Regions from separate parts of the Homo sapiens genome. Here region 1 is linked to region 2. Evidence: fine-mapped expression QTL. A gene starts in region 2. The other region holds a variant in brackets. All regions are shown on one strand. Distances are from middle to middle.

Region 1 (5,373 bases), 54 kb after region 2:
GCCTGTCTGGAGTCCCAACTACTCCAGAGGCTGAGGTGGGAGGATCGCTTGAGCCCAAGAGGTCTGGGCTGCAGTGGGCCACGATCACGCCACTGCACTTCAGCCTGTGCAATAGAGTGAGACCCTGTCTCAAAAATAAATAAGAAGAAACACAAATTCTTTCGGACCCCATACCATACCTATGAGATGCTGGTGTGAGACCCAGCAGCCTGTGTGTAGCAAGCCCCCCACCGATTCTGATACCCAGAAAGGCCTAAGCTAGAGCTTTTGTGAAAAACAAAAAAGTTGGTAGATAGGGGGTGGGGGCAAAGGGCCTCTTAGTGTGGTGGAAGTTCTGCAGAGCCAGGCCTCACAGCCATCTGGAAGTTTCCTCCCAGCAGCACTGCACTGGGTGAGGGGCCCAGCTGAGCATGGAGATTGGAGGCCATGGTCTTGCCAGCCCTGACTCCAGTGTTAGCCGTGGATGGCCACGTGAGGACTCCTGGGCCTCTGATGACTGATTAAAGTTACTGAGGCCTAGAATACGGGAACTAGAAAGAGATGCATGTCCAGAAATGCATGGTGATCAGCAGGGGATGCTCTGGGCTGGAGCCTACAGCAGCCTCTGCTTCGGTCAGAGGGCCTAGCTTTGCACAGGGGTCCTGAGGGTGAAGACAGGGCGGGAAGGCAGCCTGGTGGCAGGGGCGGTGGCTTGTAGGAAGAAGAGGTGGGCAGGCTGCAGAACCTCAGCTCTCCCTACAGCTGGGGCCTGGGTACCTCCAGCCCCACACCATGTCTGTCCTTGGGGGAGTACCCCTCTCACGGCCCTCACAGCCACCGCAAGACATCCTCCCCTCCTCAGGCCCCCAACAGGTGGTTTTTAGTAAAACCATACTGGGGAATGACAGGATTTTGAAACCCTCAAACCTGGGCCCTGACAGGTGTCTCAGCTGCTGGCAGGGCAGAGGCACTGCTGTGGTTGTGGCACAGGTCCAGACTCCTGTGGTGCCCCATGGAGCTTCAGAGAGGGAGCAGATGGGGTCGTCCACAGCCCCCATGGCTGCGGCAGGTCACAAGGCCACCAGACACCCCCACCCCAAGAGCCATGCTTCAGAACTCAAGTTCCGTCACCTCCTTCTCAGGGGGGATGACCGGGGGGTGTGTGTGTGTGTGTGTGTGTGTGTGTGTGTGTGTGTGTGTGTGTGTCGTGTGTGTGTGTGTCGTGTGTGTGTGTGTCGTGTGTGTGTGTGTGTCGTGTGTGTGTGTGTGTGTGTGTGTGTGTGTGTGTGTGTGTGTCGTGTGTGTGGAGGTGCTGGGCATCCTCAAAGCAAGAAAGCAAGGCTCATCTCCCCATTTCCTGACAGTGGGGACCACCAGCTGCGTAGCAGGCCAGCCCCCTGCCCCACCCCCACAGGCGCATGGTACTAACCATCTTCTCAGTCTTGCTGAGGTTGACGTCCTTCTTGTTCCTGCGGTGTGCCTTGGCGTCCTCGATGTCCATGAGGCGAATGAGGGGCATGGTGCTGCCGCCCAGCAGCAGGATGGTGAAGAGCACGATGACGATGGTGGTGGTGCCGATGAGCTGCCGCTTCTCCATGGGCTCCAGGTCCAGGTGTAGGCTCAGGGCATAGGGGATGGCTCCCCGCAGGCCTGGGTGACAGCAAACAGTGTGAGAGGACACAGTGAAGAGGCAGCAGCTTCATGGGCTGGCTTCCCTGGAAATCCAGCCGGCCCAGCACCACGACCAGCTGACTATTCTAATGGCCCTGCTGAAGAGTGTGTGCTCACCCTGTGAGGCTTTGGGGTGTAAAGAGCAGGTGGCAGAGATGGGACCACAGACTCACCTCCATTCCAACATTGGCAGATCAAATGAGATGGCCTGCCCCAGCTACAGAGCCCCAGATGCGGGTGCGGGAGGACTTAGCAAGCCTGATGCTCGTGTCTTGGAAACTGCAGGACAGCTGCTGTGGGCTGAGCCCTCCCTGTGTGTGCGCCAGGCCTGGGCAGGTGCTCAGTGTGCAGAGCATCACTGGATCTTCACAGGAATCCTCACCGAGCAGCGCTACTCTTGTCCACAACACACAGATGAGGGATGGAGGCCAAGAGCAGCATGGCCCGCCCAGGGCCACTCAACTAATACCCACAACAGCACAAGATGCAATGTGTCCAGTACCCCTCCTATCTCGAGATGCTGTCCCTGTGGAGGCCCCTGGTGGCACTGATGGGGCTGTGGGCTGCTTAGGTGGTAATGACAGGCTGGCTGGTCCTCTGTGACGCTACTAGGGCACAACTGAGGGGCATGGACTGAGCTGGAAAACAGCACATTCCTCTGTTAGAAGTTTCCTGGCTTCCTTGGTGCCATACGGAGGGGACAGGCAGTCCTAGCCCCACCCTTGGGGAGCTCCTAGAGCAGCTGGGAGGAGGCACAGCAAATAAGGGGTGTGAAATGCTACCTGGAAGAGATGGTGGGGGGAGGGGGGTGGGGGGTGGGGGGGGGCATGGTGCAGACAGCACCAGGACCTTCCCCAGACAGGAAAGCGGGGAGGCTCACATCACCATGGGGTAGGGCAGCCAGGCTGCTGCAGGCCAGACCCAGATGGGGAGACGGCAGGGCAAGAGCAAAGGGCACATAATACAGAGACATGGTGAGGACAAGGGACTCTCAGCCTCTCTAAACCTGTCACGGGCCAGAGGATTCAGTGACACGGGACATGTAATGTGCTTTAACAGGGTGTGTACCCAGCAAGTGCTTAGTACCGGCTAGCCAGGCCACCGGGCAATTCAAAGTAGGATTTCTTGGGCAAGGGGGATGCAAAGGCATAGGGATGACAGCATCCCCACGGCATCCAAACAGGCAGCTGGAAACAGGAGTACGGATCCCAGAGGGAGGTCTGGGTTCGCGGGAACAGCTTTGGGACTAGGTGGAAGTGAAGGCCAGTGGACGGGTGAGCGCACTCAGTGAAGTGCAGAACACGTGAACAGAAGTGGGGCTGGGGCCAAGTCCTGAAGAAGCCACTATTTGAGGGGTCAGCGAAGGGGGACGAGCCCAAGGAGACGTCAAAGGAGAGAAAGGAGGAGCATGGCCCAGAGGCCGGGGAAGAGAGTGAAGTGGTCCTCGCCAGAAGGTAGGGGCAGTGGGAAGGAGGTAGGCTAGGACGGGGGCGGACGCCTCCCCTCCAGGTCTGGCTGCGGGAGGTCACTGGTGACCTGCCAAGGCCAATTCCAGCCCCGTGGACAGGCGGTGAAGAAGTGGAGAAAATGAGCGAGCACGGCTCACTCGCAAGGGTCTGGCCATGGCAAAAGAGGTGCGGAC[A/G]CAGCTGCGGGGGACATGAGGAGGAACTCTGGCTGAAGTTGCTGGTGTTTTGTGGGAAGGAGGAGAAGCTCTGATTGCTTAAATGATGATGGGAGGGGCCGGTAGCAGAGGCTTGTTCAGTGCCCCTCGTTGAGGATCCAGGAAAGCCTGGATGGAAACCCACAGAGCAAGAGCCCGGGGAGCCTGGGAGAGAACAGGAGCCGACAGCCCCCGCCATTTCAAATACACTCCAACCTTCCCCATAACGCTCTCTTATCCTCATGCCCCCCTTCCCAAATAGCCCACATCACTTCAAAAACCTCTGACACACTTCTGCAACCATTTACAAAGTAGTTTGCCTCACTGGCAAAAGAGATTAGGAAAAAAATGAGTTTTTCTCACCACATATAAATGTATATGTATATATACACATACGTACATATATATGAAACATATACATTTTTAAACATGGCCTTTTGAAAGAAGAGAAATCTGAGACAAACTTGCAGATATGCCTTTGGATAGAGAACATTATAGTGTGTTGCTATAACCCAACCCACACGGAAAATACTTTGATTATAATATTTAAGCAAGAAAGCATAAAGAACAGTATGTATTGCTCAAAAATAAATTTAAGGATGCCTATGGATCCAGTTCTTTAGAAGCAAAGATGTATGAAATCATTTCCGTCCTTTAAAAAGTGATTAAATAGCAACTGAAACATTCAAATTAAACTACTAGAACTTTGTGACTAAAAGGAAAAATATCCAAAACTAACATAAGGTATGAAACAGTTTCAACTTTCACCTTTTCTACCTTGAGACCATTATTACTTCAGCCTAGAAGACCCCCAGGGAGGCGCTGAAGCACGCCCAGCTGCATCCCGGACTGCACTATGGTGTTCAGAAGAGAGTGGCAGAAATCCCGGCTCTGCCTCCAGTGGTCACGTGACCCTGGGCATGTTGTTTGCCCTCTTCCAACCAAGCCTCACCCACTTCATAGCACCATGGTGAGGGGCACCATCTTGATTGCAGTGGGTGCCATTAAACGGGAGTATTGATTACTTGTGGTTTTGCCAAGGGCGCTAGCAGAGAACCACAGCTCTCCCTGTATGGGGCGTGCTTTTAACAGGTACTTCCCCACCCCATTTATCCAAGATTTGACTTACCACTAAACCACATGATGAACATCATCTTCGGTGTGATTTTATGATCCCGGAAGAAATTCAGGAGGTAGGAAAGAGGGAAAATGTTTACCGCTCTGCCAAATAGTACAAGCACCTGTTGATAGCAACAAACTAAGTCTTAGGTGAAAACATCTGGCTCTTCAAGCTGAAGCTTCTTGGATGAAGCTAATGCAGACTGTGTAACACATCCAGTACAAATGCAGTATTCCCCTCAGCCACAAAAGACACGAGCAACACCATGCTCGTCAGAGACCCAGCATGGGCGTGCTGCCACAGCTGCGGGATTCTATGCATCTAGGAAAGGATAAAGCTTTGTACGTTACCTTTCTTAGTAGCCAGAAAAGAGAGGACGGACGAGGTATCAGGAAGGGCTTTAGTAATGACAGCAGAACAAAACTGAATGCCAAGAGGCTGTACAGAAGTATTCACAGATTAGTTTAAGGGCAACCTGACTCCCAAGGTGCCCCTCCTTGGGACAGGGCTGCATTGATCATACCAGGACTAGGGGGACAGACAAGGTGTTTCTGCCTCTCCCTCAGGGAAAGGAGGGCAGCTATGAAGGACCTCCCATGCATGGAAACACTGCTCTCTGAGCAAGAGGAACGCAGAGGTAGGGACTATCAGGAGGCCACATGCCCCGGCTTAGCCTGCCAGCTGCTTGCTGTGGCTTTTGGTTCCTCTCCATCTCCAAAGGCATGTTAGTCTTGGCAAAGTACAGCTTTATGTAAAGTTTACATCTTTTTTTTTTTTTTTTGAGACAAAGTCTCACTCTGTCTCGCATGCTGGAGTGCAGTGGTGTGATTGTGGCTCAATGCAACCTCAACCTCCTGGGCTCCAGTGATCCTCCCACCTTAACCTCCCAAGTAGCTAGAACTACAGGTATGCACCACCATGCCTGGCTACTTTTTAAAATTTT
Region 2 (5,373 bases):
TCTTCTGAACACTTGACCATTTTCTACTGCCTCTAAGAATCTCCTTCCTCCTTGTCATTAAGTTAGATGTTAATGCTGTTAGGCAAAATTCCAGACCAGGTACAGAGAAGGTGAGGGAGTCTATTCATTCACCACTGAGGGCAATGGAAACTTGACAAAGCCCTGTTCTCATGATGCTTACATTCTAGAGTGAAGGGAAACACAAATGTTAATTTCAGATAGTGATTAAAAATATGAAGGAAATATGGCAAACAGACCAGCTGGGGTGATCATAGAAAGCTGCTTCTGAGGAGTTGGCATTTGAGCTGGGTGGGACCTGATTACGAGGACAGCCACACAGATCTGGGTGCAGAGCTCCACACCAAGATCACGCCACACACAAATGAGGACTGGAAAGGAAGGCAGGCAGACCTTGGGGGCCATGATGCGGTAGACCATGGTGAGAAGGGCAAGTGATGAGGCAGTAGAGACAGGCAGGGCCTGTGGCCATCACTTGTGTTGCCTGTTCACAAAGGCAGATGACAAGAGGAACCCAAGAGAGCACAGAGGGTCCAGTGAGTATAATGGAACCAAACCCAGCATGCAGATAAAAGCAGCTCGAAGTCTCTTCTCAAGCACACACACAGGTACAGCTCATCTATCAAATGTTCACGAGTCACTTTGTGCCTGAGACATGCCCAAACTACCAGCCTGCTTTTGAACAACTCAAATATCCTGGGATGGCTTTTCAGTTTCTATTTCCTACTTATGCGCCCTTTTCTAGTTCAGCCTTCCGATGCTCCACTCCGTCACAGTGCTAGGAAGAAATTCCCTTCTCTTGGGCACCCAGCCAGCTGCCTTTCTCCAGCTGTATTCTACCAGATTGGAGAACACAGTCATTCAGGGCTTGAAATAAAGTTTTATAAAAATCCAATGCCCCAGCCAGAGTTGCAGTGATGCTCAACTTTCCAAGCACAAAAGGTAAAAATCAACTAGGCACAGGAGAAAGCAGTCGGTTGGAGCTAGCGGGGATTTGGGCTGCCCTCACAGAGGTGCTTCCATCTGTCTTCAATTTGCACTGAACTGCTGATCACGTGGGGCTAGGACAGCGAGGATAGAGAAGAGCCAAGGTTTGAAAACCAGTACTGTTCCTTGCCCTCTGACCTAGGAAAGGTTCACCAAGCTCAAGAAAATCTCAAATTTTGCTGCTCTTCATTTAGCAAACTGTGCTGGGTCTAGCCTTTTTACAAATGTTAATAGTAAATGAAATCCACTGAATTAATCCAAAATCAGGTAAATCTGATCCAAGGATAAGTGGATTCAATGAAAAAGCTAAAGACCACTTCAACTCTCGTGAAGCTTGCTTACACGACTTATTAGTTCATTCAACCATTACCTGATCACTCACCCCACGCACAGAGGTGTGATCCCTGAAATACCCTCCCACTTGCAGAATGAATTTTTACAATAGTTTGACCAGTCATTGGTACTTATTTATAATCAATTCACTGGACTGTAAACTCTGAAGGCAGAGTCTACCCCAAAATCTGGCACACAGAGGCCATTCCAGTCAGTTCAGGGGCAATAAAGATATGGCCACTCCGTCATGAGCTGTTAAGTTTTGCTCTGTGCAAGCAAGGAGAAGGAAGTTAAGTCCCAGAAAGGAAGTGGGGGAAGTAATTTAGATGGGGATGGTATTTGGTGAGGTAACTTAACCTGGGACTTGAAGCCTGAAAAGGGAGGGGTGGGGGGAAGAGTTCCAGGCTAACCGAATTGCAAAGATGAATAGCCTAAAGCAACATGATGAAGCAAAAAGCAGCCAGCTAGGTGCCAAGCACTGTTCTCTGGACTACTGAAATGGTCACCTGCAGTACATCTGGGAAGAGCTAGGCCACGGTGACCCTTCCCTAAGAGAGCCTCGGACCCTCAGTGTATTCACCTGTAAAATGGCTGCCAACCCTCCCCCGCTGCAGGGTGGCTATAGAATAATGCCCATGGAGTGCAATGGCTACTGTGCCCGCTGCCAAGACCAATGCCAAGGTGATCCCACGATAAGCACTGAGAGGGGCCAGAGGAAAAGCCAATTCTGAGGCAAGAAGCAGGTGGCCACGTTGTCTACAATTCTTTCAACTCAGATGTGTTTGTGCGTCTGATGGAACAAGGCTTAGATTCAAATCGACCAACCTGACCAACCTCGAAAGCCCCGGCCACAGCCCAGGACCTGGACTGGACATTTATACACATATCTGCTTTAATCATTATAACCACTCTATTCACAATATTCAGGTCATGAAGGCTTAATTGAAAACTGAAAGAAACAAACCTCCTACACAGGAAGTAGAATGCTAACAATCCCATCTGCCAACTCCCACCCCCCTTTCACAGCTAAGGGCAAACTGGCCAGATCCCCATAAAGACTTCCCTTTTGTTGTTTTAGTCTAGTTCAGCGTTTCTCCCGACTTTAGTGCACAGTAGAATAACTCGCCACAGCTAGACACGACGCCAAATGTCCTATGCTTTAAGAGCGACGTGGACTAGAAAGGAAACGTCGGCTCTCCAAGGGCGGACTTCGGAGCCTAAAGTCCCCGCAGGGCACGAGTCCACTATCACGTGTGGGAAGGAGACTGACAGGCCGCCTGGAACATCGCAGGCGCTCAACAGACAGCAGCTGCCCCGCTAAGACGGGCGGAGGAACGGGATACTTAGGAGTGAGCGGGGCGGGACAGAAGAGCGCCCCGGCAGCTTTCACGGCCCTTAGGAGCCCCGGGGGACACCCCCGGGAGGCCCCTCTGGGTGGGTCCTCTGGCTCCCGCCCTGAGACCCATCTCGCTCCTCGGCTCCATTCCCTTCCCAGTTAAGCGCCCCCCGACCAGGCCCGGGCTCGCCGCTTACACGTGTCCGCAGGGCACCTGTACCGGCTTCTCGTACACCTCTAAGCACACGGGACACGTGAAGCGTCCTAGGGGGTCAGCCTCCGCCGCCGGCCCCGCCAGCTGCGCAGCACCCCCGCAGTCCCGCTGTTGCGCCGCCATCTTGCTGCCGCTCTGCGCCGCGCAACGGCGGCCGATGAGGAGGAGGCCGAGGGGGCGGGGCTCGCGGGGCGGTGAGCGGTTGGGGGCGGGGCTAGCGGGTGGGCCGCCCCTCGGGGCCCCTCTGACGCAAGCGAGCTAGAGGCCGAGGGAAATCTGGAAAACGTGGAAGCCAAATCCAAAGGCTGCCAGAATTGGGACGGGCTCTGCGCGTGGGCCGCTGTTTTCCAAATTTATCGTTAGTTCGGCACCACTTGCACTATCACTATTTATCTTCGAATCAAGTTGCTTTTTCCTTAAATTTATTTATTTATTTATTTAATCTATTTTGGGACAAGGTCTTGCTTTGTCGCCCAGGCTGGTGTTCAGTGGCGCGCGCGATCATGGCTCCCTGCAGCCTCGACCACCGGGGTTCAAGCGATCCTCCCACCTCAGCCTCCTGCGTAGCTGGACCACAGGCAGTCACCACCATGCCGGACTAATTTATTTATTTTTGTATTTTTTGTAGAGACGGGGAAAGGAGGGGGGGAAGGAGTGGTGCAGAGAGCGGGCGGGTCTCACTGTGTTGCCGAGGCTGGCCTCGAACTCTTGGACGCAAGCAATCCGCCTGCCTCGGCAACCCGAAGTGCTGGGATTACAGCGGTGAGCCACAGTACCCAGCCATTTCTTAAATTTAAGCAAATTCTAATAACAGATCTAATTCCTGAGCTGCAAGAAGAAAATCAATATCATTTATTTATACAAAGGAGCTGGGCAAGGTGGCTTACTTCTGTAATCTCAGCACTTTGGGAGGCCGAGGTGGGCGGATCGCTTGAGCCTAGGAGTACTAGAGCAGCCTGGCCAACATGGTGAAACCCCGTCTCTACTAACAATACTAAAATTAGCCAGGCGTGGTTGCCCATGCCTGTAGCCTCAGCTACTCAGGACGCTGAGGCAGGAAAAGCCTTTGACCTGGGAGGCGAAGGTTGCCGTGGGCCAAGATGGCTCACTCACTCCAACAGTCACTAAACTCCAGCCTGGGCAACAAGAACGAAACTCCGTCTGAAAAAAAAAAAAAAAAACAAAAACACAACCTGGCTAACACGGTGAAACCCTGTCTCTACTAAAAATACAAAAAATTAGCCGGGCGTGGTGGCGGGCGCCTGTAGTCCCAGCTACTCGGGAGGCTGAGGCAGGAGAATGGCTTGAACCTGGGAGGCGGAGCTTGCAGTGAGCCAAGATCTTGCCACTGCACTCCAGTCTGGGCGACAGCGCGAGACTCCCTCTCAAAAAACAACAACAACAACAACAAAACAAAACAAAAAAACCCCAACAACAAAGTACATTCATTTCATATTGTGCAATCATCACCATCAGCTATCTCTAAAATTCTGGTCTTCTTGCTAAACTGAAACTGAAATTCTGTCCCCATTAAACAATAACTTCCTCTTCCCTCCTCCCATCCCCATACCCCCAGGCCCTGGCAATTTTCTGTCTATGATTTTGAAGCACTTATAGCTATAAAATTTCCCCTGAGCACTGCTTTCACTGTGTCCAGTAAATTTTGGCATGCTGTGTTTTTGTTTTCATTTGTTTCTCAATATTTTCTCTATTTATTTAATTAATTTATTTATTTTGAGATGGAGTCTCACTCTGTCGCCCAGGCTGGAGTGCATTGGTGCAATCTCTGCTCGCTGCAGCCTCCCTCTCCTGGATTCAAGCAATTCCCTTGCCTCAGCCTCCCAAGTAGCTGGGATTACAGGTGCCTGCCACCACGCCTGGCTAATTTTTGTATTTTTAGTAGAGACAGGGTTTCACAATGTTGGCCAGGCTGGTCTCAAACGCCTGACCTCAAGTGATCCGCCAACCTCGGCCTCCCAAAATGCTGGGATTACAGGTGTGAGCCACCCAGCCTGGCCTGTTTCTGAGTATTTTCTAATTTCCCTTGTGATTTCTTCTTTGATCCATTGGTTCTTTTAAGAGTGTGTAAATTTCCACAAATTTGTGAATTTTCCAGTTTTCCTTTGATATTGATTTCTTTTTTTTTTTAACCCCCCCATATTGATTTCTAGCCTTATCCAATTGTGCTTGGAGAAGATATTTGGTATGATCTCTTTTATTTCTTCTTTCTTTCCTTCTTATCTTTCTCTCTTTCTCCTTTTCTTCTGTCTCTTTTTGTAGAGATGAAGTCTGGCTGTGTTGCCCAGGCTGGTTGCAAACTCCTGGGCACGAGCAATCCTCCTGCCTCAGCCTCCCAAAGTGCTGGGATTACAGGCCTAAGCCACCACAGCTGGCTGATGTCTACCTTTTAAAATCTCTTGAGGCTTAATCTGTGGCCTAACATATGGTCCATCCTGGAGGATATCCCATGTGTGCCTGAGAAGAA

Which allele goes with the higher level. Positions count from the first base shown, and alleles are read on the strand shown. Sizes are in standard deviations (SD) of each study's normalised expression.
As copies of A replace G in region 1, the expression in Th1/17 cells of the gene that starts at base 3,027 in region 2 goes up (large effect, 0.90 SD a copy in Schmiedel 2018).

What was found.
Region 1: its variant is fine-mapped to the expression of RNF114 in Th1/17 cells (Schmiedel 2018, PIP 0.91).

Annotation. Positions count from the first base shown.
Region 1 is chr20:49,880,102-49,885,474 of GRCh38, reverse strand. SLC9A8 (solute carrier family 9 member A8) reads right to left here. Exons shown (of 16, transcript NM_015266.3): 13 at 4,440-4,551; 14 at 1,409-1,629. Among named protein-coding and RNA genes, the nearest start is that of MIR12122, 19 kb to the right of the region's middle. The variant A/G (reference allele first, on the strand shown) is at 3,293.
Region 2 is chr20:49,934,051-49,939,423 of GRCh38, reverse strand. RNF114 (ring finger protein 114) reads right to left here and starts at 3,027. Exons shown (of 6, transcript NM_018683.4): 1 at 2,872-3,027. The coding sequence starts at 3,011. RefSeq lists silencers at 1-32, 1,658-1,952, 2,238-2,532, 2,991-3,180, 3,747-3,826 and 1 more and an enhancer at 2,773-3,378.